Linked DNA regions of Homo sapiens: region 1 is linked to region 2. The links come from fine-mapping of genetic effects on gene expression. A gene starts in region 2. The other region holds a variant in brackets. All regions are shown on one strand. Distances are between the middles of the regions.

Evidence for each region.
Region 1: its variant is fine-mapped to the expression of CIAO3 in whole blood (TOPMed, PIP above 0.99).

The regions. Positions count from the first base shown.
Region 1 is chr16:622,275-635,654 of GRCh38, reverse strand. RAB40C (RAB40C, member RAS oncogene family) reads right to left here. Exons shown (of 6, transcript NM_021168.5): 4 at 10,146-10,223; 5 at 9,534-9,756; 6 at 6,387-8,313. The coding sequence ends at 8,033. It overlaps WFIKKN1 (WAP, follistatin/kazal, immunoglobulin, kunitz and netrin domain containing 1), which reads right to left and starts at 4,670. Exons shown (of 2, transcript NM_053284.3): 1 at 4,231-4,670; 2 at 1,538-3,073. The coding sequence starts at 4,401. The coding sequence ends at 1,598. METTL26 (methyltransferase like 26) reads left to right here. Exons shown (of 6, transcript NM_032366.5): 2 at 1-43; 3 at 315-374; 4 at 699-766; 5 at 858-936; 6 at 1,011-1,225. The coding sequence ends at 1,058. RefSeq lists enhancers at 1-410, 4,577-5,311, 5,492-5,786, 5,312-6,045, 7,515-8,248 and 1 more and a silencer at 7,878-8,128. The variant C/T (reference allele first, on the strand shown) is at 5,506.
Region 2 is chr16:734,099-748,612 of GRCh38, reverse strand. CIAO3 (cytosolic iron-sulfur assembly component 3) reads left to right here and starts at 7,616. Exons shown (of 11, transcript NM_022493.3): 1 at 7,616-7,693; 2 at 8,875-8,970; 3 at 11,284-11,427; 4 at 12,215-12,347; 5 at 13,742-13,876; 6 at 14,266-14,384. The coding sequence starts at 7,628. RefSeq lists silencers at 7,211-7,490, 7,561-7,620, 7,991-8,290 and enhancers at 7,474-8,069, 10,630-10,924.

The DNA of each region.
Region 1 (13,380 bases), 110 kb after region 2:
CTGCATCAACATGGCCCATGTCAGCCCCCTGCGCTGCACGGAGGTCTGTGGGGAGCCCAGCATGGGTGTCTGCCGTGGCACCACTCACCCTGCATGGGGGCAGCTGGGATGCCAGATTTGCCCCCATCACAGTCGGGGTGAGGGTCTCCAGCCTCCCCCATCACAGTCGGGGTGAGGGTCTCCAGCCTCCCCCATCACAGTCGGGGTGAGGGTCTCCAGCCTCCCCCATCACAGTCGGGGTGAGGGTCTCCAGCCTCAGGGCCTGGCTTCTGTTGGGGGCAGCACCTCACTGCCGTCCTGTTCCTACTCACCAGGGGCTCTTCAGAGCAGCAGGACACCTGCTCAAACCCAGGGCCCTGCTCATCACCTACGGGGTGAGTGGGCCTGTCCACGGCGGGCCTCCCGCTCCCAGTCCTAGCTGCTGTCTCCTGCCCTGCTGAGAGTCCTCCCTCCTGGGCTCCCTGCCCCCCGCCCAGCCACCAGCACGGCCTCCCCTCCACTTCCAGTCTGTACCCCTCCCTGGGTCATCTGCCAGCCTCCCTACCCCCTTGCCCACCAGGCTGGCCTTGGCTGACTCCCTCTTGGGGACAGGGAGGGGGTGCCCTTTCATTCTCCAAACCCCAGCCTGCAAGTCTGTCCCAGGCTCTCTGGGAAATACCCCGACCTTGGTCCAGTGGGCTGTGTCCCCATGCCCACAGCCCTATGCCATCAATGGGAAGATCTCCCCCCAGAGCAACGTGGACTTTGACCTGATGCTCAGATGCAGGTCAGAGCTAGAGGCGGGGGGTCTGGCTCAGGTGGCAGGTGGCTTGGGTGGCACCCCCCAGGCCATGACTCCATCTCCCCACCCTCTGCAGGAACCCAGAATGGGGGCTTCGGGACACAGCCCTCCTGGAGGACCTGGGAAAGGCCAGTGGCCTGCTCCTGGAGAGGATGGTAGGTGGGGGAGCGGGGGCCCAGGCAACCTCTCTAGGGGTTGAGGGCCGTCCTCCAGCAAAGTGTTTCTCCAGGTGGACATGCCAGCCAACAACAAATGCCTGATCTTCCGGAAAAACTAAGCCCCTCCTTCACCCCCGCACACCTGCATCCCTGCCGGAGGCTCTGTGAGGCACGAACCCTGCCTCCCTAGGCCGGACCTTGTGGACGACAGCCCCACCCAGTCTGTGCTCTCAGCCGCTGGCCGAAGGGCCCAGCCTGCTCAGAATAAAGCATGTCCTGCTGCCGGCTTGCTGGTGTCTGCCCCACCTCCTCCTAGGAGCACCTTGTGAGGTTGGGTGGGAGACGGGGTCTCCTGTGGGGTCAAGGGCTTGGGACGTCCTGATCCTTGCTGCTGGAGCTCGGGCAGTGGGATTGGGGCCGAGACAGCTGCTGAGGCAGGATGGAGCTGGTTGGGGATGCAGGGGCGGACAGGCACTCCCTGGTGACCTTGTACCAAAGCCCAAGCCCCAGTGGGTGTCAAGGCCCCAGCGGAAACTGGCTGGGCATGGGGCACCTGGAAGGATGAGGGTCGCCCGACCAGCAGCAGCAAGCCAGGAGGTCTGAGGCACAGGGAGTGCGTTTATTCACCAGGACGGGGTGGCGCAGGCCCCTGCGGGGGCTAGTCCTGGAAGCGGTTGAGCAGCTCGCAGGCCTGCTTCTCCAGCAGCTCCAAGATCTTCTTGACGCGCTTCTCGCTGGCGGCGCGGACGTAGCTGCCGGCGTCCAGCACGGCCACGCCATCGCGCACCTCACCCATGATGACCAGCGGCCCGTCGCCCGCCGTCATGTTGGGGCAGGGGCAGGCCCAGTCCATGCCACTCAGCGTCACCTCCAGGTACTTGGTGCCCAAGAACTTGAGGCCCATCTTGTCATCCTTGAGCACGTCCTCGAGCGCCACGCGGGCGATGCCGCCGGCGGCCTCGGGCTCCTCCAGCACCTCCGTGAGCCGCCCCACGATGGCGAAGTCGCTGCGGCACAGGCTCAGCGCCAGCTTGCTCCGGAGGCGGCAGGCGCGGCAGGGCGGTGTGCGCGGCACGGGGCAGGCATCCTCGCAGCTCTCGCGGCTGTGGAAGTTGTTGCCGTTGCCCTCGCAGCCACCGTACACGAAGGGATGGCACTGCTGCAGCAGCGGGCTGTAGGCCCAGCGCGGCTCCCAGCCCCGGCAGGGGCCCTGCACGGCAGGCAGCACGCAGGCGTCGCCGGGGCCGCGGGCACAGGCCTGCTGGCATGCCTCGTAGGTCTCAAAGCCGCGGGCCGCCCCATCACAGCCACGGGCCGGGAAGGTCATGCAGCCGCCCCGCTGCGGGTCGTAGTGCCAGAGGACAAGGTGTGGGGAAGTGGGGCCCGTGCAGGCCTGCACATCCGGCAGGCACTCGGCCGGGGCTGGGATGCTGGGGGCTGCGTCCCTGGCCGGCTCTCGCTGGACCACAGAGAGTGGGAAGTCAGCCCGCAGCAGCCCAGCAGCGTTGCGCGCGGTGCAGGTGTACAGGCCGGCGTCTTCGGGCCGCGCGTTGTAGAGCACCAGCTGCCCGATGCTGGTGACCACCACGTTGCCATACATCTGATCAGGGCGCATGATCAGGTTCTCTCGCTGGTGACTCTGCTTCTCCCAGGTCACAGCAGGCGGCGGGCGGCCGCTGACGTCGCAGTGGAGGCTGGCCGTACCCCCAACCTGCACCGCCTGTGGGGAGGGGCTGCTGTACAGGGCAGGAGGCACGGGCGCGGCCCCAGGTGTGGGGCGGGCAGTGGTCTCCGGCGGCCCCGGGCTGCTGGGCGGCCAGCTGAGCACGTGCTTGCAGGGCACGATGTGGAGGTGCAGGCCCCGCAGGCAGGCCTCGGCGTCCATATAGCAGCGGTTGTAGTAGGTGAGGCCGTCCGAGGCGCAGGTGAAGCTGGGCTCCTTCTCACAGCGGTCGCGGCAGCGGCACACGGGCTGCCCGTCCCAGATGTCGCAGTCCGAGCCCTGCTGTGGGCACACAAAGCCCTCGCAGGAGGCCGCTGTCGTCGGCGCAGCTGGGCTGCCGGGGAAGCGTGCTGCCACGCAGCTGTGCAGTCCACACACGTTGATGCAGCACTTCTCAGCAGCCGCACAGTCCTGGGGATGGGGGACACTTAGGTGGGAGCCCCAATGCCCCCCGCCCCGGGGCTCTGGCCTGGCCCCTGCAAGGGGAGGCCCAGGTGGGGTAGCAGGGAGCCCCCCGCTCTGTGGCTGCCTCCCCGGGGACTCAGTGTCCTTTCCATCCTGTGTGAGGAGCCACCTCGCCAGAGGTGCCACCTGGCTTACCTTCCAGAATCCTCACACCCACAAGCAAGTTCCGTTATTCTTTACGTTGTACAGACGAGGAAACTGAGGCCCAAGGAGGGCGTACAGTGCTCAGGACCACCCAGCAGGTGGTGCGGGCCAGGACAAAGGCTGGACATCGGCTGCAGCACCCCCACCACCATCTGCACTGGTCCCGGATGGAAGGAGGGTGGGAGGACAGGGAGGACAGTGGATGGAAGGAGAGGGTGGGAGGAGAGGATGGAAGGAGAGGGTGGGAGGAGAGGATGGAAGGAGAGGCAGTGACGGGGTGGGAGAAGAGGATGGAAGAAGTGGATGGGAGGAGTGGATGGGAGGAGTGGATGGGAGGAGAGGGTGGGAGGAGAGGCAGTGAAGGGGTGGGAGAAGTGGATGGGAGGAGAGGATGGAAGGAGAGGCAATGACGGGGTGAGAGAAGAGGATGGAAAAAGTGGATGGGAGGAGTGGATAGGAGAGGATGGAAGGAGAGGCAGTGATGGGGTGGGAGAAGAGGATGGAAGAAGTGGATGGGAGGAGTGGATAGGAGAGGATGGAAGGAGAGGCAGTGACGGGGTGGGAGAAGAGGATGGAAGAAGTGGATGGGAGGAGTGGATGGGAGGAGAGGGTGGGAGGAGAGGATGGAAGGAGAGGCAGTGAAGGGGTGGGAGAAGTGGATGGGAGGAGAGGGTGGGAGGAGAGGGTGGGAGGAGAGGCAGTGACGGGGTGGGGGTGGTCGCCGAGGATGATGGTGCCCCAGGGTGGAGGCACATGGGGAGCATGAAAGCTGGAGTGGGGAGGGCTCTTATTCTTAAGACAAATGAGGGCAACGATGGGGGTGTCTCTGGGCCCCTTAAGGGGCCCAGACCCAGACCCCCCAGAAGTCTGGGGAGCCCAGGCAGAAGGTGGCACCTCCAGCAGGGTCTTGCCCAGGCTGGCTGCTCTGAGCCCCAGGACCCCGGCCCGACCACACTCACCTGGTCCCTGCTACACTCGCGCTCACAGGTGCTCTGGGCGTCCACCCACAGGTTGGGGCTGAGCTGGTTGGGGCACACGCCCGGGTGGCTCCCCAGCCCTGGCAGCAAGCCAGCCCCCGAGGTCAGCCGGAGGAGGAGCAGGAGCGGCAGGAGTGGACGTAGGGCGGGCATGAGGGCCGCCGAGCCAGGGGGCCGGGGGGTGTGGCCACCAGCCCCTCCTCGGGCTCCACAGAGCCCAGCTTCCTGCAGGCATCCACCCTCCGGGCCTGTGGTCGGTGCCCCCACCAGGACCCCGGGGCTCCCTTTTGCCCCTGAGGCTGAAGCCTGCAGCAGATGCTTGTCCTGACACCCCTGCTGGGTGGGTAACGGGGTCTCCAAGTTCTCAGAGGCCGTCTGTGTGACGCTGGTTCCTCTCCAGCTTCAGCCTGGCCCCTCTGTCTGAACCGTGCGGGGGCTCCCAGGCCCTGGTCAGCACAGGGCAGAGGGGAGGAGGTTGGGGAGGGGCCAGAGGCCCATGAGCACAGAGCCACTGGCCATGAGGGTCACCGGGGCGGGGAAGGGCTGGCTCTGGCTGGAGAGGGGGAGGGGAGGGGACCCTGTAACCTGAACCCCTTCGTCCACCCCTGGGCTGAGATCAATCTCCTTGACGACCCTCAGTAGGGTGGGGGCAGGGCCAGCAGATCCCAGCTTTTGTCCCTGGCGCCCTCTGGACCCCAGGCTCCTATGCCATGGGGGTGGCAGGCACGGGCCCTCCCCGCAGAGCGTGGCTGACCACAGCCTGGGTCCCCCGGGCCAGGTCCAGGCTGGCAACGGTCACGTGCGGCCGAGGGCTTCACTCCGCTCCGAGGTTCCTTCCCCCCTCCATGGCTGTTTCAGGGGCACAGGGGTCTGCAGGACGCCCAGCACAGCCCGGCCTCCTCTGCTCTGCTGCCCCTGTTGGAGTGGGGCCCAACCCGGCAGGACTGCATTCCCAGAGACCCCATCCCTGAAACCAGGCAGCGGGCTTGGGGCTCAGGCCTGTCCCCAAGGCGGGGCAGGTGCAGCAGGAAGAGGCCTGTGGCCACCACAAGCATAAGAACAGCCCGAAACGCTGATGCCGGAGCCTCGGCCCACGCACCGTGTAGCCCTGGACGTGGCTCCGCGTGGGATGGCACCGCCCGAGGGAAGGCCAAGTGCAAGGGCGTCTGCAGCTGAAAAGAGCAAGTGTCCCAGGGCACCAGAGCCTTGCCCTGCCCCAGCCCCCCGTCGGCGGGGCACACATCCCCAGGCTGGCTC[C/T]TCTTCGTTGGGGAGGGCAGGGGGCTGGCCTGCCTGGTGCAGCAGGACAAAAGGCTGCCTGGAATCTACCCTTCCAAACCCTCTGTGGCTCCAGATGTCTGGGGCCTCAGGGAGTGGTTCTCTTGAGACCGGATGGGAGTGTCCCCCTGACCCTGTGTCTGACCTCTGACCCAGGAGGCAGGGTAACAGGAGCCTGGTCTGGTCAGAATGAGACCCGGAGACGGCTCCAGGCGCCAGTCCCTGCTCTACAAGGAGACTGGGGGTGGGCCCTGATAGCGTGGGGGTGGGGGTAGCTAGGCCAGACCCAGCAGCAGGCGGCTGGGCTGGAGCTGCCAGGGAGGGGCTTAAGGCCCGGACATGCCCACGAAACAGCACAGGGAGGCACCTGAGCCAGAGGCTGTGGTCTGGTCCCTGTACCAACTGGAGTGCCCCGTTCCAGCTCAGCTGTGACCTCCGGGGCGTCCACACCCCCCTGGGCCGGGCATAGCAGACACCAGATTGGCCAGCGTGCAGGCGGCTCTGCTGAGCGGGCCGACTGACTGGAGGACCTGGCCCTCTGGAGTCCTGCTGCTGTTGGGGACAGTCCGCCCCAGGCCATCTGCTGCCGGGGACTGTGAGCGAGGGCTCAGCACAGCCCAGCTGGGATTCCATCCACCGGGAAGAGGAGAATGGCCGTGACCAGGCCCAGCTGCTCCAGCCCAGCTCCAGCCCTCACTTTGAGGCGAACCCAGCCAACCGCGGCAGGTCAGCCCGGTCAGCGCAGGGAACAGCAGGCAAAACAAAGGCCAGAGGTCAGTTTGCCGGGTATGAAGCAGCACTGGCCCCTGGCACGGGGCACCGCCACTGCCAGACCCACCCCACCAGACACAGCAAAACGTGGGGACCACAGCTGAATTACATTTACTGTACAAAGAACGGTTCGGAGAGAACCAGGAATGGCGGAGTGTCTAACAGCAGCGCGGGTAGTGTTGATGCCGTGAATGCAGGACCATCCAGGTCCTCAAAGTCTGTGAGGTTTGTTCATAATCCCAAACAAGGGCCCTGCTGGCAGCAACAGGACAGGTGGGGCCAGGACAGGGAAGCTGGAGCAGGAGGCCAGTGTCTTTGGGGGCTGTGGCAGGGCCGCCTGCCTGGGGTTCCCTTACTCATCTGGTAGTTCATGCAGGCCACGGCCCTCATCTCCCAGGAACGGGCCATGGGGCGAGTCCACTGGTGCCCAGTAACACCCTCCGTGGGACCACCTTGGGAAGCATGTGCCGCGGAGTCCACCACGGGGGGTCCTGGGTCCCGGGAGGGCTCCTTCTGCGTGCTGGCCATGTCGTGCCGCACGGCCTGAGGACAGGAGGTAGAGGTGAGCACCAGTGCTGTGGGCAGGCCCAGGCGATGGTGACCGTGCAGAGGGGCTGCTGGGGCAGGCATGGGCAGAAGCACTGGGTGGAGGAGCGGCCAATGGCTTCAGGAGAGAGGTGGCCGGCCCTGCGTGCCTGGGGCTCAGCATGAGCGCCGGGCTGGTGGGCCTTTGAGGAGGGGCCTAGCCTCCCGAGGCCCCCAGGTGGACGTGGACGTGGACGAGGTGGTTCCAGGCACGTCCCTAAGAAGGTCAGGATGGTTCTGATGCCGTGCAACCTCACAGGAGAGCTGCAGCTGTGGGGACCCCAGGGCCAGCGACAGAAGCTGCCGAGAACAGGAGGCTGCACGCAGGTGCCCGGGGTCTGCACCGCTGCCCATCAAGTATTCCTAAGTCTACAGATAGCTCTGCACTCTCCAGGGTGGGCGAGATGATCTGAGTTTTGAGTGGTCAATGTCCCCGAAGGTGTCACATCACAGCAGGAAGGTTCTCATCCCCACGTGGGGAGGGATTTGGGGAGCAACAAAAATGTGGGCTGCCAGGTGCACCTCCTTTCTCCCCTCTCCTGAGTGCTGCTTGGGCTCTGACCACAGGACCACACCCTCCATCCCGTGGGAGCCAGGGCCCCGGTCACCCAAGCTTCCAGAGGGAGCACCGGCCCTGTCTGCTCCCCCGGCCTCTGGGCAGCCCCGCCACTCGCAGCGCATGAATTCACAGGATGCCTTGCCATCGCGGCCGCGAGTCCCCTCTCGAGGAGTCCCAAGTGCGTCCCCGCAGCTGGCGTGGCCATGAAGTCACCAGTGCACCACCACCGGGCCACACCCAGGCTTCCCTGAAGGCCCCTTAAAAATGTACAAAAAAGTGAAGTGTTCTCTATATAAATAAGAAAGGCCAACCAGGCTCCCCGCCGGTCAAGCCCAGGCAGCTGGGGAGGCCCGGCTTGTTTCCGACCAAGATTCCCGGAAGCACCAGCAGCCCAGCCGCGCCCCCTCCTCCCGCCTGCCGCGCTTGGTCCGTGCATGCTCCTCCTCGCACCCGGCTCAGGTGTGAGGAAAGCCCGGCGCTTCTGAGGCAGCTGTGTGGACAGTCTCCACGTAGGCGGCACTGGCCTGGCGTCCAGCCAGGAGTGTCCAGCTCGAGCCCTCCTGGCATCTGCACAGGCGGCCCCGCCCATCCCCGCTAGGAGATCTTGCAGTTACTCCGCGAGCAGTTCTGGGGGGGGCTCTGGGGTGGACGGATGGACTTGGACCTCTTGAGGCTGTTGCCCTTGCTGCCGCCGCCCCCGGCCCCGCTGGCCAGGGAGTAGGAACGGCCGTGCATCATGACCGCGTTCATGCCGTTGGCCATCGAGAAGGACTTGAGGTGGCTCTTGATGGTGACGGGCAGTGGAAGCTTGTCGATGAGGTGCACGGGGGTGCAGGAGACGATGGCCCGGCAGCAGAGGTCCTGCAGGCTGAACACTGTGGGGCAGAGGGGGTGTCAGACCATGGGGCTGTGGGGGAGGAGGCCCTGTGCAGGGAGACCTGAGGTGCCCAAGAGAAGCCTGGCGGGGTCTCCACACTCCTAGAGGTGTTCCCAGGCTGGGCTCCTGGAGGACCTGGACGCCCAAACTTCTCTGCCCAGCACAGATGTGTCCACTGGCACCCCATCCCCTGCCTTGCTCCCTAAAGCCAGGCACGCTGGGCGGTGCTGCTGCGGGGCTTCCAGAGGGCACTCTGCCCAGTTCCTGGCCTGGATGATGCAGCTCCCAGTGTGAGGGCTGCGTGATCTGGCCCTTCAAGCGTCCTGACTCATCCCCTAGAGCGGGGGAGCGCGCGTCCTGACTCATTCCCTAGAGCACTCGCTCATTCTTTTGTTTTGTTTTTTGAGACGGGTCTCGCTCTGTCGCCAGGCTGGAGTGCCGTGGCACGATCTCCGCTCACTGCAACCTCCGCCTCCTGGGTTCAAGCGATTCTCCTGCCTCAGCCTCCCGAATAGCTGGGACTACAGGTGTGCGTCACCACGCCCGGTTAATTTTTGTATTTTTAGTAGAGACGGGGTTTCACCGTGTTGGCCAGGCTGGTCTCGAAGTCCTGACCTCAGGTGATCCACCTGCTGTGGCCTCCCAAAGTGCTGGGATTACAGGAGTGAGCCACCGTGCCAGGCCCGTGCTTCCTCTTAAGAAGGACAGTGACACCGTCAGCCACCCTCTCTCTGTTCAGCAGTGAACCCTGCTGGGAGGCACCACAAAATCAACAGTACCACCTCCCTGAGGGGGGCTTCACGGGAGCCTCTGATCAAGGATGTGGCTACCCAGGAAGAGCAGATGACACAACACAAAGCTGCAGGCACGGCTCCTGTGCTCCCCTGACAGCAGGACCAGCCCCGGAACCAGGAAGGAGCGAGCACACACTGCCCACACCAGCAATGCCAGGGACCCACAGGCATGGCAGAGTGCAGCGGCCACGGCGGCACCCTGAGGGGGGGTCATCAGCTGCTCCTGTGCCCCCCAGTGCTGCCGCCTCTCCCCCGAGGCTGCTCTTACCAAGTCACTGACCTGCCGCCGGCCGAGCCCCTACTGCGCGTTGCCAAGGGACCTGCCTGAACCTCCCTCACTGGCCCCTGGCCCCCCTCAGCCTCCATGTGATCAGGGCAGCCCAGGTTCGGGGACCTCAGGGCTGGCCGGCGCCCGCCCACCCACCTCGGTTGGGCCTCCAGATCTTCTCCATGCCGTGCCGCATGAGCACGATGCGGGATAGCTCCGTGAAGGACTCGATGACGTTGAAGTTGCACAGGGGGCTGACCTCAAAGAAGGTCATGCAGTTCTTCTCTGCGTACGCGCGGGCCTGCTCCGTCGGGACCTGCCGCTTGAAGGCCAGGTGCAGCCGGTTTCCAACCAAGATCCGGGGGACTCCGGGTGCATGCTGGGGGCACAGAACTCAGCAGACGCACAAACGCAGGGTGCCACCCACCCCTCAGCCGCAGCAGGGCCCGCCCTCATTGTCTGGACTATGATGGGGTGAGGGCCGTGGGAGGTCAAGGTGGGCGGAGGTCAAGGTGGGCAGACCCCAGGGCTCAGGCCCTACAGTGCAGCCCTTCCGGGTGGCCCCGTAGCTCCTGGTCTTGCTGGGCTCCACGCCCGACTGTCGTGTGCACAGTGACCAGCATGCCCAGGCGTAGGCCGTGGGACAGTGCAGGGTGCAGAGCCGGGGCCACAGGAGGGGCGGCAGGCGGGAATCCAGAGCCTACCCGGGGCCCAGGTACCTCCATCCAGCCTGCCTTCCCCGGGAGGGCTCCCCGGACCCAGGCCTACCTCATCGATCTCCTTGATCCAGCGGTCGATGCCGTCAAAGGACCAGCGGTTGGTGATGTCATACACCAAGAGGATCCCCTGCAACAGAGACTTGGGGGTCATCAGGGGTCACTGACACGCATGGCCAGCCCAGGCCCAGGGACGCTCAGGTGCAGGGGCCTCAGTTCCCGGGCAGGGCCAAGGATGCTTATTACTTGGCGGATGGGCAGATGAGCCATGCCCTCCAGGCAGAGCTGGTGCAGCCCTGCCCCTCACCCCTGCCCTCACCTGGCAGGACTGCAGCAGGGGGGTGGGCGCCTTCCATGGTGTCAGAAATGCCGCTTCCCCTCCCTCCCCTGGAGCCATCAGCCTGTGGAAGTTTCCTGGGCAGGCAGATGCGGGGTTCTGGCAGCCGGGGGACGTGCAGCTGTGGAAGCTAAGTGTCCTCTCGGCCAGTCCATCAGTGAATCCCCCCGGGAGTACCTGGGACAGAGCTGAGTGGGGGCATTTCTGAGTTTTCCAACCTAAAACTTGCAGAGCAGAATGCCAGTCCCTCCAGGACAGTTTCTGTGAAGCTCCCCCAGCCAGGCAGAGCAGGTTTTGCCACGGGGACTTTTTGCCACATCCCTTAGAGACCAATTACTTGGAGCTCAGCTCTGGGCTGTTTCCACCTGCCCTAAATATCTCGGCAGTGACAGTCATGGCTCTCCAGCAGCACAGGGGAGCACACTGCTCACACTCAGAGCCCTGTCGGGCGAAACGGTGACATCACAGGCCCATTCCCCTATGCCCGCCTCTCCCCAACGTCCACTCCCACCCTACAATTCTGCAACCAGATCCAGCCAATGAGCTGTGATCCACCCTACTCCTAGGCTGACAAAACCTTCACGTAATGGAAGAGCCTATCACACAAGAGGCTGAGGCTGAAAGAAGAGGGCACTGTCCATCTGAAAATTAGGGTTTTTAGAGCCTCTTAGAACCATCTTTCGATATCTGGAAGACTGAAGTGTAGCCCCAGGTCCTGTTTAGAACAAGGTTGACATTACTAAGCTCCCAGGGCGAAGGCCTTGCTCAGGATGGAGCGACAGCTCAGGAAGGACACCTCTCGCTGAGGGAGACCCTTCGAGGCCAGAGATGGCCAAGTCAGTCTGGTGGGCGATAAATGATAAGATTCAGAATAAACAAATGCACACCCAGGGGTTAACCCTGGAGGTTGGGGCACAGGGACTGGGGCTGGCTCATTTGCTGCTGGGGGAGGTGGAGAGACTGGGGAGTGGGCCACCAAAGCGTACAACACAGCCCACTCTCCCTAGTGGCAACCTCCCGCATGGCAACCTCCCGCATGGCAAGCCCACAACTCAGAAGTAACTGAGGATGTGTGTCACAGTGGCGCTGATAACAACGACAAGCCAGACACAAATTAAATGTCCAGCCTCAGGGGACAGCTGAGTAAGCGGCAGTGAAATGTACCGTGCAGATGCTGAAGACAGCAGCAGTGCATGTAAAAGCGTGCATGCTGGCCAAGGAGAGATGTGCAACCCAGGTGAGGTAAGAACGCAGGTCCCAGCACTGCGGATGGCATTTTCTTTTTTTTTGAAACAGGGTCTCACTCTGTCAGCCAGGCTGGGGTTCATGCAGTGGCACGATCATGGCTCACTGCAGCCTGATATTCTGAGCCTCAGCTTCCTGAGTGGCTGGGAATACAGGTGTGAACCACCACATCTGGCTAAGTTTTTTTAAACATTTTTTAGAGATGGGATCTTGCTATGTTGCCCAGGCTGGTCTTGAACCCCTGGCCTCAAGTGATCCTCCTGCCTCAACTTCCTAAAGTGCTGGGATCAGAGGTGTGAGCCACTGTGCCCAGCCCAGCATGATTTCTTTTTTTTTTTTTTTTGAGACGGAGTCTCACTCTGTCGCCCAGGCTGGAGTGCAGCCGCACGATCTCCGCTTCCGGGTTCACGCCATTCTCCTGCCTCAGTCTCCTGAGTAGCTGGGACTACAGGCGCCCGCCACCATGCCCGGCTAATTTTTTTGTATTTTTTTTTAGTAGAGACAGGGTTTCACCGTGTTAGCCAGGATGGTCTTGATCTCCTGACCTCCCGATCTGCCCACCTCGGCCTCCCAAAGTGCTGGGATGACAGGCGTGAGCCACCGCGCCCGGCCCAGCATGATTTTTAAAAAATAAAAGTATGAACACACAACACATTACACTGAAGAAGTTTATATGGACATAAAACAAATGCTAAAAGGCTGGAGAGGGGTAACTTTTGATGCTGACCTGTTTTCTGTGGCAAACACCCCTATTCGCATGACACTGAAAACTCTAGAAAGAGAGCAGAAGGCCCGCCTCCCGGCTGATGGGCTGCCTCAGGCTCCAAGTGTGCTGTGACGCGGGGGGCCCTGGCCACACCTCCCGGCTGCTGCCCTGAGCGGGCCCCCACTTCCTGGGATGGCCATGTCTGAGGAGTAGGGGTTACGGGCAGGGGCGATGGCACAGGAGGACCCGGAGGCTTGCTCCGGCGTGGGTCACAGTGAGGCCGCAGGGACCCAAATGACCACGGAGTGAGAAACCAAAAGGAGACTCTCGGTGACCAGCAGCCGCCTAACGAACGGCACCCTAAGCACCCTCAGCTGCGTGTCTCAAGGGGCAGAGCACGGGACAAACAGACTCTTCCACTGCCTTCTGTTTTCTAAAACTGATCTGATTTTTAAAAAACTAGCGACTTCGGCCAGGCGCCGTGGCTCACGCCTGCGATCCCAGCACTTTGGGAGGCCGAGGCAGGCGGATCACGAGGTCAAGAGATGGAGACCATCCTGGCCAACATGGTGAAACCCCGTCTCTACTAAAAATACAAAAATTAGCTGGACGCGGTGGTGCACACCTAGTTCTAGCTACTCGGGAGCCTGAGGCAGGAGAATGGCGTGAACCCGGGAGGCGGAGGTTGCAGTGAGCCGAGATCGCGCCACGGCACTCCAGCCTGGCGACAGAGCCAGACCGTGTCTCAAAAAACAAAACAAAAGAACGAGCGAGTGCTCTAGGGGATGAGTCAGGACGCGCGCTCGCCCTGCTCTAGGCCCCTCTAGGAGCCGCCCTGACAGTCAGTTTCCTCAGCGTCTACAGACGTGTCCACGGTGCCGCTCATGCCTCGCGGGCGGGGTCAAGGGGGTGGAGGCACTTGGCGCTGCTCCCACCCGCACGCCCTGAGCTCAGGCCCAGCACCCCCGCCTGCTCGTGAACTGGTACTGCGCCAGCTCT
Region 2 (14,514 bases):
AGGCCTCCTCATTAGCTGCTAATTGCAGCATGTCACGGCCTCCACCTGTTGACAAGACGTGGCTGCCCCCAGGGTGGATGTGGGTGTTGATTATGCTGCTAACGACCCCACGCCCATCCCGACAGCAATTCCGTTCCACAAATAAAACGTCTGCTCGGCCAACGGAGAGCCCGAGTCCTGCTTGACAGAGGGCGGGGGTGCGTGTGGGGTGGGGCATGGGCCACACGCGGGGAGGCAGTCTGGGTCCAACCACAGGTGGAAATGGCCGCCAGCACCCCACACTTTCCTACAAAAAGGCACTTTCTCTCCAAGTTTTATGAATAACAGGCTGCACGGGGCCACCCACCGGCGAGCCCGGGGCCCGGCAGCCTTTCCCATGTTCCCTCTGCCACCCGGGAGGCAGGGCCTCGGGAGCCCTCGAGCACATCAGCCCGAGCGGCGGGAAGTTTCTGCAGACTGGAGGGTGTGCCCCCCACGTCCACCCAGCTTCCCACAGGAGCCAGCATCTCCATACTTATTTTGTACTGTTATTTGAGATGGGGTCTTGCTCTGTTGCCCAGGCCGGAGTGCAGTGGTGCAATAACGGCTCACTACAGCCTCGACCTCCCGGGTCCAGGCAATTCTCCTACCTCAGCCTCCTGAGTAGCTAGGACCACAGGCATGCATCACTGCACCGACTCATTATTTTGTAGGAACGAGGTCTCAATATGTTGCCCAGGCTGCTCTCAAACTCCTGGGCTCAAGCGATCCTCCCACCTTAGTCTCCCGAAGTGTTGCCATTACCAGTGTGAGCCGCCACCTCGGGCCTCATCTCCACATTCCTGTTGGGTACCACGCCGCCCCAAGGCCATGCTGGCCTACCCTGCACTCTGTTGCCTGGCTCTGGCCCTCTGGGAAGCTCATCCTGGTGTCCTGCACATCAGTGGCCACACAGGTGGGGGAGTTGGAGGATTCACCTTCCCCACTTATGTGAGTTCATTCCCACACTGCTATAAAGACACTGCCTGAGACTGGGTAATTTATAAACAAAGAGGTCTGGCCGGACGCAGTGGCTCACACCTGTAATCCCAGCACTTTGGGAGGCCGAGGCGGGCGGATCACCTGATGTCAGAAGTTCAAGACTAGCCTGGCCAACATGGTGAAACCTTGTCTCAACTAAACATACAAAAATTAGCCGGGTGTGGTGGTGGGCACCTGTAGTCCCAGCTACTCGGAGGTTGAGGCAGGAGAATCGCTTGAACTCAGGAGGCAGAGGTTGCAGTGAGCTGAGATTGCGCCACTGCACTCCAGCCTGGGCAACAAGAGTGAGACTCTGCCTCAAAAATAAAAAATATAAAAATAAAAGAAAGAGGTTTAATTAACTCCCAGTTCCACAGGGCTGGGGAGGCCTCAGGAAACTTACGATCATGGCGGAAGGTGAAGGACGCAGGCACGTCTCACGTGGCAGGAGGCGAGAGAGTGGAGGGGGAGCTGCCACTTATAAACCAGCAGCCCCCGTGAGAACTCACCATCACGAGAACAGCATGTGGAAACCCTCCTCCATGATCCAATCACCTCCCTCCCTCGACACAGGGATTACAGTTCGAGATGAGATTTGTGTGAGGACACAGAACCAAACCATATCACCCCACCCCCCCACCAGGCAGCCCCTGGGCCCCCAAACCTAAACCCAGGTTCTATGGCGAGAACCAACAATAGCACTGCTCTCGGAGGGTGGCCCTGCGGGGTGGGGTGGGGCGGAACCACCGTGGACCCCAGTTGCTGCTCCCTAGCCCTGTGTGTGATGGGGGCATCTGGCCTGGTGTGTCCTTCGGGCCTTGGAAACCACACGGGCTGAGTCTGAGTGCACGTCCTGCAGCCCGGCCAGACAGACCCGCAATGAACCCACCTCCTCTCCTGCTGCCCAGCCAGGCAGACCCGCAGTGAACCCACCTCCCCTCCTGCTGCCCAGCCAGACAGACCCGCAGTGACCCCACCTCTCCCCTCCTGCTGCCCAGCCAGACAGACCTGCAGTGAACCCACCTCCTCTCCTGCTGCCCAGCCAGACAGACCTGCAGTGAACCCACCTCCTCTCCTGCAGCCCGCCCAGACAGACCCGCAGTGACCCCACCTCCTCTCCTGCAGCCCGCCCAGACAGACCTGCAGTGAACCCACCTCCTCTCCTGCTGCCCAGCCAGACAGACCTGCAGTGACCCCACCTCTCCCCTCCTGCAGCCCTGCAGACCCGCAGTGACCCCACCTCTCCCCTCCTGCTGCCCAGCCAGACAGACCTGCAGTGAACCCACCTCCTCTCCTGCTGCCCAGCCAGGCAGACCCGCAGTGAACCCACCTCCTCTCCTGCTGCCCAGCCAGGCAGACCCGCAGTGAACCCACCTCTCCCCTCCTGCAGCCCTGCAGACCCGCAGTGACCCCACCTCTCCCCTCCTGCCACCCAGCCAGACAGACCCGCAGTGACCCCACCTCTCCTTTCCCAGTTCCTGGAAGCAGAGGCCTTGATGGAACACAGGAAAGCTCAGTAAACGTTTTGAAATCAGACGTTCAGGAAAAATTAGTTAATTTTGGAAAACTCAGCTCTCCTCCCCAGGAACTCCTGACCTGAGGGGGGTTTATTCCCCCTTTACGGGGTTGTGGCACCTGCCGGCCCCCGTGGGCTCCGCAGCACCACCTGCCGGCCCTCAGCCAACCTGGGCTGCATCCCGTCCACCGGACTCACAGGCCCCACCTCCACCCCGCCCGCCCCTTGCGGGCCAGCCCAGCCCCCACACAGCCTCCCTGAGCCACATACCCGGTTAGGAGGTGGAAAGCATCTCTTTGTCGAGGGTCCCACAAGAACCTGAAATGAGGGCTGTGGTGGCTGAAGGGCAGCCTCCCAAAAGATACAACCAGGCCAGGCCCAGTGGCTCACGCTGTAATCCCAGCACTGGGGGGCCGAGGTGGAAGGATCACTTGAGCCCAGGAGTTCGAGACCAGCCTGGCCAACATGGTGAAACCCTGTCTTTTTTTTTTTTTGAGACAGAGTCTCACTCTGTTGCCCAGGCTGCAGTGCAGTGGTGCGATCTCAGCTCATTGCAAGCTCCACCTCCCAGGTTCACGCCATTCTCCTGCCTCAGCCTCCTGAGTAGCTGGGACTACAGGCACCCGCCACCACGCCCAGCTAATTTTTTCTATTTTCAGTAGAGACGGGGTTTCACCGCGTTAGCCAGGATGGTCTCGATCTCCTGACCTTGTGATCCGCCGGCCTCGGCCTCCCAAAGTGCTGGGATTACAGGTGTGAGCCAACGCGCCCAGCCCCGTCTTTAATAAAAATATAAAAATTAGCTAGGCCTGGTGATGGACTCCTGTAGTACCAGCTGCTCAGGAGGCTGAGGCAGGAGAATCGCTTGAATCCTGCAGGCAGAGGCTGCAGTGAGCCAAGATCCTGCCACTGTACTCCAGTCTGGGCAACAAGAGCGAAACTCCGTCTCAAAAAAAAATAATAATAAAGGCCGGGTGCAGTGGCTCACGCCTGTAATCCCCGCACTTTGGAAGGCTGAGGTGGGCAAATCATGAGGTCAGGAGATCAAGACCATCCTGGCTAACATGGTGAAACCCCATTTCTACTGAAAATACAAAAATTAGCCAGGCGTGGTGGCAGGAGCCTGTAATCCCAACTACTTGGGAGGCTGAGGCAGAATTGCTTGAACCCGGAAGGCAGAGGTTGCAGTGAGCCAAGCTTGTGCCACTGCATTCCAGCCTGGGTGACAGAGTGAGACTCTGTCTCAAAAAATAATAATAATACTCATGCCTATAATCCCAGCACTTTGGGAGGCCGAGGCCGGCAGATCACGAGGTCAGAAGATTGTGCCCATCTTGGCTAACACATGGTGAAACCCCGTCTCTAGTAAAAATACAAAAAAATTAGCCACGTGTGGTGGTGGGCGCCTGTAGTACCAGCTACTCGGGAAGCTGAGAGAGGAGAATGGCGTGAACCCAGGAGGTGGGGCTTGCAGTGAGCTGAGATGGTGCCACTGCACTCCAGCCTGGGCAACAGAGTGAGACTCCATCTCAAAAGAATAATAATAATAATAATAACAGTAAAAATAGCCAGGCATGGTGGCGCACACCTGTAGTCCCAGCTACTTGGGAGGCTGAGGCCGGAGGATCTCTTGAGCCCGGGAGGCTGAGGCTATAGTGAGCTGTGATCACACCACTGCACTCCAGCCTGGGAAGAGAGCAAGACACTGTATCAAGAAAAAAAAAATGTGCTGGAGCGACACAGTCACAGACCAAGGACAACTGGAGCCCCTGGAAGCTGGAGAAAGCAGGAAGGGTCCTCCCTGCAGCCTCCAGAGGGAGCACGGTGAATGACACCATGACCTCAGATGTGTGGCCTCCACAGCTAGTAGGGGACGCATCTCTGTTGCTTTCACCCCGGCGTGTTGTCATTTGTTACGGGAGCCTCAGGAGACAGGCACAGGATGATCCCTTCCGAGGGTGAAGCTCTGACACCAACCCAGGAGAGGGGACCAGGTGGCTCTACCAGTATCATGACCCCGGACCAGCAAGAGGATGCTAGCATGCAACCTCCCACCCAACCACCGGGGGCGGCTGTAGGCAAAGGGGGGTCCTGTGGGTGCCCGCAGAGCAGACGCCTCCACCAGGCATCCCTTCCAGCCCAGGGAAAGGGGGTGCCCATACACAGTCACAGCATCACAGCAACCTGGGGTCCGGCCGGCCTCGCCCTATGTCCCCAGCCGGCCCTCGTGTCCCCCCGTGCCCTCCCTGGGTTCCCTGGCCCTGGCTCAGGGACTAGCACGTGGGAAGTGCATGGTAAATACTCGCTAATGACGATGATTAAACAATCTGCAAAACAGAAAGCAGGGACCCCAGAGGCACGAGGTTGGCACTAGAGCTCAGGGGCTCCAGGGAAATGTCTGTGAGTTAATGAAGAACCCCGCCCCAGCTCCACCCGGAGCAGCAAGAGGAAGCTCACCTAAAGACCCTTCCCTTATCCCAACAGCCCTCCTCACTCTCACATTTTCTGTAAACCCACTCCACTGCATTTCAGTGGCACTAAGTTTCTTTCGTATTTTTTTTCTTTTTTTTTTTTTTTGAGACGGGGTCTCGCCCTGTCGCCCAGGCTGGAGTGCAGTGGTGCCGTCTCGGCTCACTGCAAGCTCCGCCTCCCGGGTTCACACCATTCTCCTGCCTCAGCCTCCCCAGTAGCTGGGACTACAGGCGCCCGCCACTACACCCGGATAATTTTTTTTTTTTTATATTTTTAGTAGAGACAGGGTTTCACTGTGTTAGCCAGGATGGTCTTGATCTCCTGACCTCATGATCTGCCGGCCTCGGCCTCCCGAAGTGCTGGGATTACAGGCGTGAGCCATCGCACCCGGCCTCGTGTTTTGTTTTTCTTTCTTCTTTTAGATGGAGTCTCGCTCAGTCGCCCAGGCTGGAGTACAATGGTGCGATCTCAGCTCACTGCAACCTCTGCCTCCTGGGTTCAAGTGATTCTCCTGTCTCAAACTCCCGAGTAGCTAGGACTACAGGCACGTGCCACCACGCCTGATAAGTTTTTTTTTTTTGAGACAGTGTCTTAGTCTGTTGCTCAGGCTAGAGTGCAATGGTGCTATCTCAGCTCACCACAACCTCCACCTCCCAGGCTCAAGCGATTCTCCTGCCTCACCCTCCTTAGTACCTGGGATTCCAGGCACAAACCACCATGCTGGGCTAATTTTTATATTTTTAGTAGAGATGGGGTTTCACCATGTTGGCCAGGGTGGTCTTGAACTCCTGACCTCAAATGATCCACCTGCCTCAGCCCCACAATGTGCTGGGATTACAGGCGTGAGCCACCGCGCCCAGCCTAATTTTTGTATTTTTAGTAGACGGGGTTTCACCATGTTGGCTGGGCTGGTCACAAACTCCTGACCTCGGGTGATCCACCCACCTGGGCCTCCCAAAGCGCTGGTGAGCCACCGCACCCGACCCCCTGTTCTATTTTTAATAGAAGATATTTCAGCCCCTAATCTCCAAGCTCGGCCAGGTATTGCCAGGTGGCGGGATGGCTGGGACCTGGAAGCTCACCTGGCCCAGGTGCTGGGGAAAGCTCCTCCGTGCAGCAGCAGAAGAAAGTCCTGTCTGGCCGAGAGGAGCAGCTGCAGGTGATGGAGAAGGCCACACAGGCTGGTGGCCCAAACCCCACAGGCAGGTGCAGGAGTGCCCAGGCCGCATCCAGGTGGGGACATGTGGTCAGAATCAGGGCCTAGAACCCTGGGGAGGGTGCGGCGCAGGCTGGGACCTAGGATGTTGCCACTGTGAGATCTCCATGGGCTGAGCCTGCTTGGGCCGGAAAGATGCCAGCCTCGATCCAGGAGTTTCCTGAAAAGTCCCCATAAAACTGGCCATTAGACATGTAACTGGCCATATGATGCCAGATATACATGTAACTGGCCAGGCGCGGTGGCTCATGCCCGTAATCCCAGCGCTTTGGGAGGCTGAGGTGGGTGGATCACTAGGTAAGGAGTTCAAGACCAGCCTGGCCAACATGGTGAAACCCAGTCTCTAATTAAAACTACAAACATTAGCCGGATGCAATGGCAGGTGACTGTAATCCCAGCTACTCGGGAAGCTGAGGCAGGAGAATTGCTTGAACCCAGGCGGCAGAGGTTGCAGTGAGCCGAGATCGCGCCACTGCACTCCAGCCTGGGCAACAGAGTGAGACTCTGTCTCAAAAAAGAAAAAAAAAAAAGTGAGTCGGGGTCGGGCGCGGTGGCTCACGCCTGTAATCCCAGCACTTTGGGAAGCTGAGGCGGGCAGATCACGAGGTCAGGAGTTCGAGACCATCCTGGCTAACACGGTGAAACCCCGTCTCTACTAAAAATACAAAAAATTAGCCGGGCGTGGTGGTGGGCGCCTGTAGTCCCAGCTACTCGGGAGGCTGAGGCAGGAGAATCGCTTGAACCCAGGAGGTAGAGCTTGCAGTGAGCCGAGATCGCGCCATTGCACTCCAGCCTGGACGACAGAGCGAGACTCTGTCTCAAAAAAAGAAAAAAACGAAAAGCGAGTCGGCCCACAGGGTCCTGTTTCAGGGTCTCCCAGGGGCATGGACTTTTCCAGACTGGTCTCCAAGATAACAGAAAAAGGGGCTGGAGGCCCTGGGAGCGGCTCCCCAGGAAGGGGAGACCTCGTGCCTATCCATGCTTTCTTCCCTGCCTGAATTCCCCAACACGAGCTGAGCGCCTCCTGTGTGCCAGGCGCGTTCCGGGTTCTTGGGTTGCATCCGGGAGCACCTGGTCCGCAGGTACGCAGAGGATGAGGAAATGGACGGAGCCAGATCCCCTCCGCTTCCTTGTGAAGGCGGAGAGACTCCGGGGCCGGAGCTGCGGCGCTGGCCCGACCAACCCCTGCGCCCCCTGCACCCCAACCCGGGGCCTGGGGCGCGCGGGAGGTGGACGAAGCGGTAGGTCCCGGGTTCCCGCGAGGTGGGCGGGGAGCCGCAGCGCCGGGGCTCGTCAGCAGAGGGCGCCGGCCCCGGGACGAGGTGCGCATGCGTCCTGGGGGCGCTTTCCGGCAGCGTGGCGGAACCAGCCACTTCGTTTCGCGCCGTTTAGCGACACCTGCGCGCGGCGGCAGTGCGGCCGTCATGGCGTCGCCCTTCAGCGGGGCGCTGCAGCTGACGGACCTGGATGACTTCATCGGGCCGTCTCAGGTGGGCCGGCCTGGGCGGGCGGGGTCGAGGCTGCGCTCGGTGCCCTGTCGCGCGGAGGGAAATTGCTCTGCGCCCCACTTCCTCCCCTGAGGAATGAGATCCGAATCCCGGGAGCCCGGTCTGGGCCGTCAGGGACTCTATCGACCCGGGCGCGGGGCCTCAGACACTGAGGCCCGCTTCTTACCAACAAGGAAACTGAGGCCAGGGAGGGCGGCGCCCCCCAACCCGCTCCTGTGCCCCATGGTGTCCGGGCGGGCTGCGTGGGAGGGTCCCGTGGTCGCGGGCTCGCGCCGGCCTGCCCAACCCAGAGGAGGCAGCAGAGGCGGCTCCCACACATCCCTAACCCTAACCCGACCCCTGGGTCGCAGCTGGAGGGCGGCGGGGCCCGGGCCGGGGCCTCTTCCCCTTCCCCTGCGCAGGACGCCTTGTCAGGCCTCAGGACCCCCAAGCCACAGCCTTTGCATCTGCATAAACGGGTGCGGTGGGGACCCCACCTCATTTGAGGGCAGTAGGGGCGGCCCGCTAGACGCCCCGCAGTGGCTCCTCAGTAGAGCTGTCCTTAACGTCGCCCTGGTGGGCCGGACAGCTACCCTTGAACCCGGGAGGCTGCAGGCGCCCTTTTCTGGGTGCACCTGCCTGTCCATGTCCAACAGCCCCGCGGGGCCAGAGCTGAGCAGGGCGAGAGGCGGGCTGCTGGGAGCGCTTCCGGCAGGGATGAGCTGGGAGGCGGCTTTCTGGGCTGCCAGGGTTCTCAAGGAGAAGAGAGAGAAATCCACTTGTTTCCCGGGCACTGAGCAGGAGGTGGTCTCCAAACAGATCCAAGCACACGTCCTCTCGATGGGCAGTGCAACTCTGGTCTCTGTGGTGGTCACGCCCCCTGTTCACGTGAAGGGTGAAGGTCAGTGTTGGTGGTGTCTCCGCAGGTGGGTAGTTTGCAGGCGCTGTTAGCACTGGCCTTCCTGCACACTGGGAACTTCAGTGCCGCAGGATGTTGGGAACCCGATCCCTGGGTGAGAGCAGTGGGGCAGGAAGAAGACGGTGGGACCAGCCTCAGTCCCTGAGTGCATGGCTCCTGGCAGAGCCTTCAGGCTGTGCGGCTGGGCAGCCATCCTTGAGGCCTGGCCTCCCAGGGAACCTCCGCCCACTCACAGGGGCTGATTTGGGGTCTCTTCCTGCTCTAGGAGTGCATCAAGCCTGTCAAAGTGGAAAAAAGGGCGGGAAGTGGCGTGGCCAAGATTCGCATTGAAGATGACGGGAGCTACTTCCAAATTAACCAAGTAAGGCACAGGAGGCTGCTCCACCATCTCTCCTGCCCGGCTGATCCGAAACACTTTTCTCTGCTTCCTCCCGTCACAGAGCGGTGACCCCGAGACACTCCAGGTCTCACCAGTCTTTTCCCACTGGTCGAATTCACCTGCCATCTGGGAGGCTGGGGGTCAGGGTGCCTGGGGCAGGTGAATGAGCAGCACCCAGGCCAAACAGCTTGATCTGCTCAGCAGAGGGGCTATTTGCAGAGATGGTGGATCCTGTCTGCGTCTGCCTGTTCCCCCTAGTTCTAACCATGTAAGATTTTCTAATTCAGACCCCTCGTTCTTTTGTTTGTTTGTTTGTTTGTTTGTTTGATACAGAGTCTCCCTCGATGGCCCAGGCTGGAGTGCAGTGGCATGATCTCGGCTCACTGCAAGCTCTGCCTCCCAGGTTCACACCATTCTCCTGCCTCAGCCTCCCGAGTAGCTGGGACTACAGGCGGCCACCACCACGCCCAGCTAATGTTTTTTGTATTTTTAGTAGAGACGGGGTTTCACCGTGTTAGCCAGGATGGTCTCAATCTCCTGACCTCGTGATCCACCCGCCTTGGCCTCCCAAAGTGCTGGGATTACAGGCGTGAGCCACCGCGCCCAGCCCAGACCCCTCATTCTTAAAGAATAGTACTTCCTCTCTAAGTGATAAGATCCTGATGAAACTGTTAAAATTCAGGCTGGGCGCGGTGGCTCACGCTTGTAATCCCAGCACTTTGGGAGGCCAGGGTAGGGGGGGCGGATCACCTGAGGTCAGGAGTTCGAGACCAGCCTGGCCAACCCCCATCTGTACTAAAAATACAAAAATTAGTTGGGTGTCGTGGCGCATGCCTGTAATCCCAGCTACTCAAGAGGGTGAGGCAGGAGAATCACTTGAACCTGGGAGATAGGGACTGCAGTGAACCAAGATTGCTCCACTGCACTCCAGCCTGAGAGACAGAGACTCCATCTCAAAAAAATAAAGAAACTGGGCCTGGCGCGGTGGCTCAGGCCTGTAATCCCAGCACTTTGGGAGGCCGAGGCGGGTGGATCACGAGGTCAGGAGATCGAGACCATCCTGGCTAACACGGTGAAACCCCGTCTCTACTAAAAATACAAAAAAAAAAATTAGCTGGGCGTGGTGGCCGGCGCCTGTAGTCCCAGCTACCGGGAAGCTGAGGCAGGAGAATGGCGTGAGCCTGGGAGGCGGAGTTTGCAGTGAGCCGAGATCGCACCACTGCACTCTAGCCTGGGTGACAGAGCGAGACTCCATCTCAAAAAAAAAAAAAAAAAGAAACTATTAAAATTCACCTGTCTGCCATTTGGACTCTAAAAAACGTCTGCCTGATCTCATGAACCACTGCACCAAGAGACGATTTCCAGCCCAGCACTGGGGGCCCAGCCCACAAACGAAGGGAACCCCTGGAAGGTGCTGGGGTGCTGGTAGGCGTGGCTGTCGGTGCAGTGGCAGTTGGTTTGGAGGAGCCTGTCAGCCTCTGCCCAGCACCCTGTGGCAGGCAAGGCTTTGTGCCTTGGGGCAGAACCAACGTAGGAATACAAGGCGAGCTCAGATTGTGATACACAGGCCTAGCAGAGAGCTGGGCTGCGAGGGGTTCCCACACAGTTCCCACCCAGTCGCCTTACTCCTCTGGCTGTATTCCGGGCCACTGCAGCACCCCTGGCCCTGCTCAAACCATTCCTGCCTTTGCAGGAGAAGTTGGGGGAGCTCGAGCTGGGTGCGTTTTGCATGTAAGAAAAGTTGCTGAGGCATGTCCCGGAGGCCCCCGACTGGAACACCTTGTTCCTGCATCTGTTTGGCGAGTCTGACGGTTGTTTCTGCCCCGCCCACCGGAGGCCAGGCTCCCAGGCTTCCTCCCTCTGCTCTCCTCTTCCTGTGCCTTCGTCCTTTCCTCCTTTGTCCTCAGCTTTCCCGCCTCCTCCTTTCAGAGCCCACCTTCGGCATTTTCCTGCCCTACAGCCCTGTGAGTGTGCACCGGGGCCAGCACCCCGTCCAGGGCCCCATGGGTGAGTGGGGTGGCTGCTGCTTTGCTGAGATACCAGTGGCAAGCCTTAGTCCTGTGATTCGGATGCACTAACCAAGTGGTACCAAGAAGCAGACTTGACGGCATTATGAAACTGTAGAGCGTGCGTGTGCATTTTTGTAATACATACCTAATTTTTAAAAATTCAGCGGCACACAAGCCCAGCCAGCAGCCATGTTGGTTGTCGGTTATGAGCTGGACTCCACTATCCTCTGTCTCCATGTCCTCGTGCAGAGGGGGCCCCTGTGCACCGGGTTCTTCTCCCTTGTAGGACGGCGGGACCCGGAGGCTGGAGAAGGCCAAGGTCTCGCTAAACGACTGCCTGGCGTGCAGCGGCTGCATCACCTCCGCAGAGACCGTGCTTATCACCCAGCAGAGCCACGAGGAGCTGAAGAAGGTTCTAGATGCTAACAAGGTAAGCAGTGGTCGGCCTGGTGACTCTGCTTTAACCTGAAATCCATCCCAGCAGCCGACAACGCGTTTTGCCAAGGGCAGCTCGTGTGGTGCCGACGTCCGTCGTGCGGGTGGCGCCTGCCTTTTTGAGGCTTGGAATCTTGGTGATTTGTCAGTGGGCTCCAGTGGTGAACGTGTCAGGCCCCAAACTTCAGGTTCTAAATATACATCAAAATGACACCCCTACTGGGCGCGGGGGCTCACGCCTGTCATACCAGCACTTTGGGAGGCTGAGCCGGGTGGATCACCTGAGGTCAGGAGTTCGAGACCACCGTGGCCAACATGGTGAAACCCCGTCTCTACTAAAAATACAAGAATTAGCCAGGTGTGGTGGCACATGCCTGTAATCCAAGCTACTAGAGAGGCTGAGGCAGGAGAATCGCTTGAACCCAGGAGACAGAGGTTGCAGTGAGCCGAGATTGCGCCATTACACACCAGCCTGGTGATAGAGTGAGACTCCATCAAAAAAAAACGATACCCTTGGCCAGGCACGGTGGTTCACGCCTGTAATCCCATCTACCCAGGAGGCTGAACCTGGGAGGCGGAGGTTGCATGCAGTGAGCTCCGATCGCACCACTGCACTCCAGCCTGGGCAACAGAGTGAGACTCTGTGTTAAAAAAAAAAAAAAGACTCTTGATGGAGCTGGCCTGCCCTCTCCACAGCTGACAGCATCTCACCGTGCGGCTCTGGCCACCAGGAATCAGCATAAGGCCAGCAGAGTAAGCAGCGTCTTCCCCTTGCTTTGCAGATGGCGGCACCCAGTCAGCAGAGGCTGGTTGTAGTTTCGGTCTCACCACAGTCTAGAGCATCGCTGGCTGCACGGTTTCAGCTGAATCCTACAGATACTGCCAGGAAATTAACCTCATTCTTTAAAAAAATAGGTAGGCTTTGAACCTGGGGTAACACTGCCGCTCCAAATCAAGGGGGCGTCTGAGTAAGCCCAGGCCCCTCGCGCCTCTGAGTCACTGACACGCTACCCAGCCCTGAACTTCAGCGCTACAGAAACTTTATTCCCTCTGTGACCTCAGCCTGAAGTTTTGATTTGACATTTGAGAGCAGGGCCTTCTCACAGAACACGTCTGCATTCTGACTGTGCACTTTCTCTAAGCTGGGGCTGACCAACTCCTTGTACTTTTTAGCTGATAATATTAAGGCACTCTCTCCGGGGCTCTGTTGGGTTCAGCCAAGGTCAGCTTCTGCTGACTTTGGTTATGTGCCTGGAGCTGGGCTTGGGGAGGATCTGGGTGTCTTGAGAGCCCCCAGCTAACTAGGCTCCAGTGCCTGGTGTCTCACTGGGAATGAAGGGGCTGGACCTCATGGTTACTGTGTGCCTTTCACAGGTAACCACCATGTCCAGTCCCTTCATTCCCAGTGAGGCAGGCCTGTGCGCCTTGTAACCAGCAGACTGCCTGTCATCCAGCTGTGTCCCAGGTCCCTCACACTGGAAACCTGGTGACACTGGCAGGTGCCCCATGGCTCCTGTCTGACCCATATCCAGTTGGTGCCTGAGCAGTGCTCTGGCACTGGGAGCCTGACCTGGTGTCCCAGGGAAAACCTGGCCTGGGGCAGCCCATGGTTCTCCAGATGGAAGGTGTGGATTTCGTCCCCACCAGAATAGGAAGCAAGTTCAAAGATTTTTACTTAGAGATGATGATGACGGGCAAGTGGGGCACAGCGAGTCCTCCGACCACGGGTTACGCGAGGGAGGAATGACAAGTCAGGCAGAGAGAGAGGGACCCACACGCGGGTGCCTCTGCTGGGTCCAGGGCACGATCAGGCAGGTTTACTGAGCAGTTCTAATGGCTGGGCTTGGAGCTGGCTGGCGTGTTCCAGGAGTCCTGCTGTGTGTGAGGGGTGGCCACTATGGTAGGTCTGCACAGTCAGGGTCCGAGGGGCCAGTCCAGCAGGCTGCGTCCAGCTGTGCCCTAGGGAGGGTCACCGGGAGCAGCGCACGTGGCAATTCCCTGGACCAGCCACGCTGAAGAGCTGGGAGGGTGGAGGACTGAGCTGCTGGGTGGCTGCCTCTGGGGTGGGAAACCAAGGCCTGGGTTCACAGGGGATGCCGAGGCAACGTGGCTTTAGGAGGTCCCCACAGTGGGGCTGGGGCTTTGGCGCAACGTGGCTTTAGGAGGTCCCCACGGTGGGGCCGGGGCTTTGGCACGGCAAGCAGGTGCGACACACGTGCCCTGGCAGCACCATGGTGGTCCACACGCCGGCGTGTGCTCGTGTGGGCGTCCCGCATGGGGTTAACCAGGCACCCACCTTCACCTTCCAGGGGTGCACTTCGTCTTCGACACCGCCTTCTCAAGGCACTTCAGCCTCCTGGAGAGCCAGCGAGAGTTTGTGCGGCGATTCCGAGGACAGGCCGACTGCAGACAGGCGCTGCCCCTGCTGGCCTCTGCCTGCCCAGGTGTGCTCATGGTGCGGGTGGTGGGAGAGTCAAGTTCAAGTGCAGTTGAAACGTGAGGTGATATGGACACAAATGACAAGGCGGGGGCATGGGGGGTGGAGACGCAAGCAGGTTTTGCGGGACGGGTTGGAAATGTTGGCACAAATGGCCTTTTCTGGAGAAGAGGCTGCCCTCCCGTGGGAGCCACGCGCAGTCACCTCAGGTCCCTAGGCGGTGTCGCCTGCACGCCGAGCTCCGCGTGGTGGTGGGGAGAACAGGAATGAGCACTCTTTAATGTCATCATGATCTCCTGTATGAGCGGGCCCGCCCCCAGAATGTCGTGCTGCTGCCTGTGGGTGCGGGGGCCGCCGTGCGCCCCCGCCAGCCCCGTGTGCCCCCTGTCACCTCAGGCTGGATCTGCTATGCCGAGAAGACTCACGGCAGCTTCATCCTCCCCCACATCAGCACCGCCCGGTCCCCGCAGCAGGTCATGGGCTCCCTGGTCAAGGACTTCTTCGCCCAGCAGCAGGTAACGGCGTTGGGCCAGCCCCAGACTCAGGCTGGGGAGCGGCCAGAAGTGACTTTGCTGGCCTCTTGCCATGAGGCTGCAGGAAACAGAGTCCTCGCTGTGCTGTGCGGCCTTCCCCAGCACACCTCCA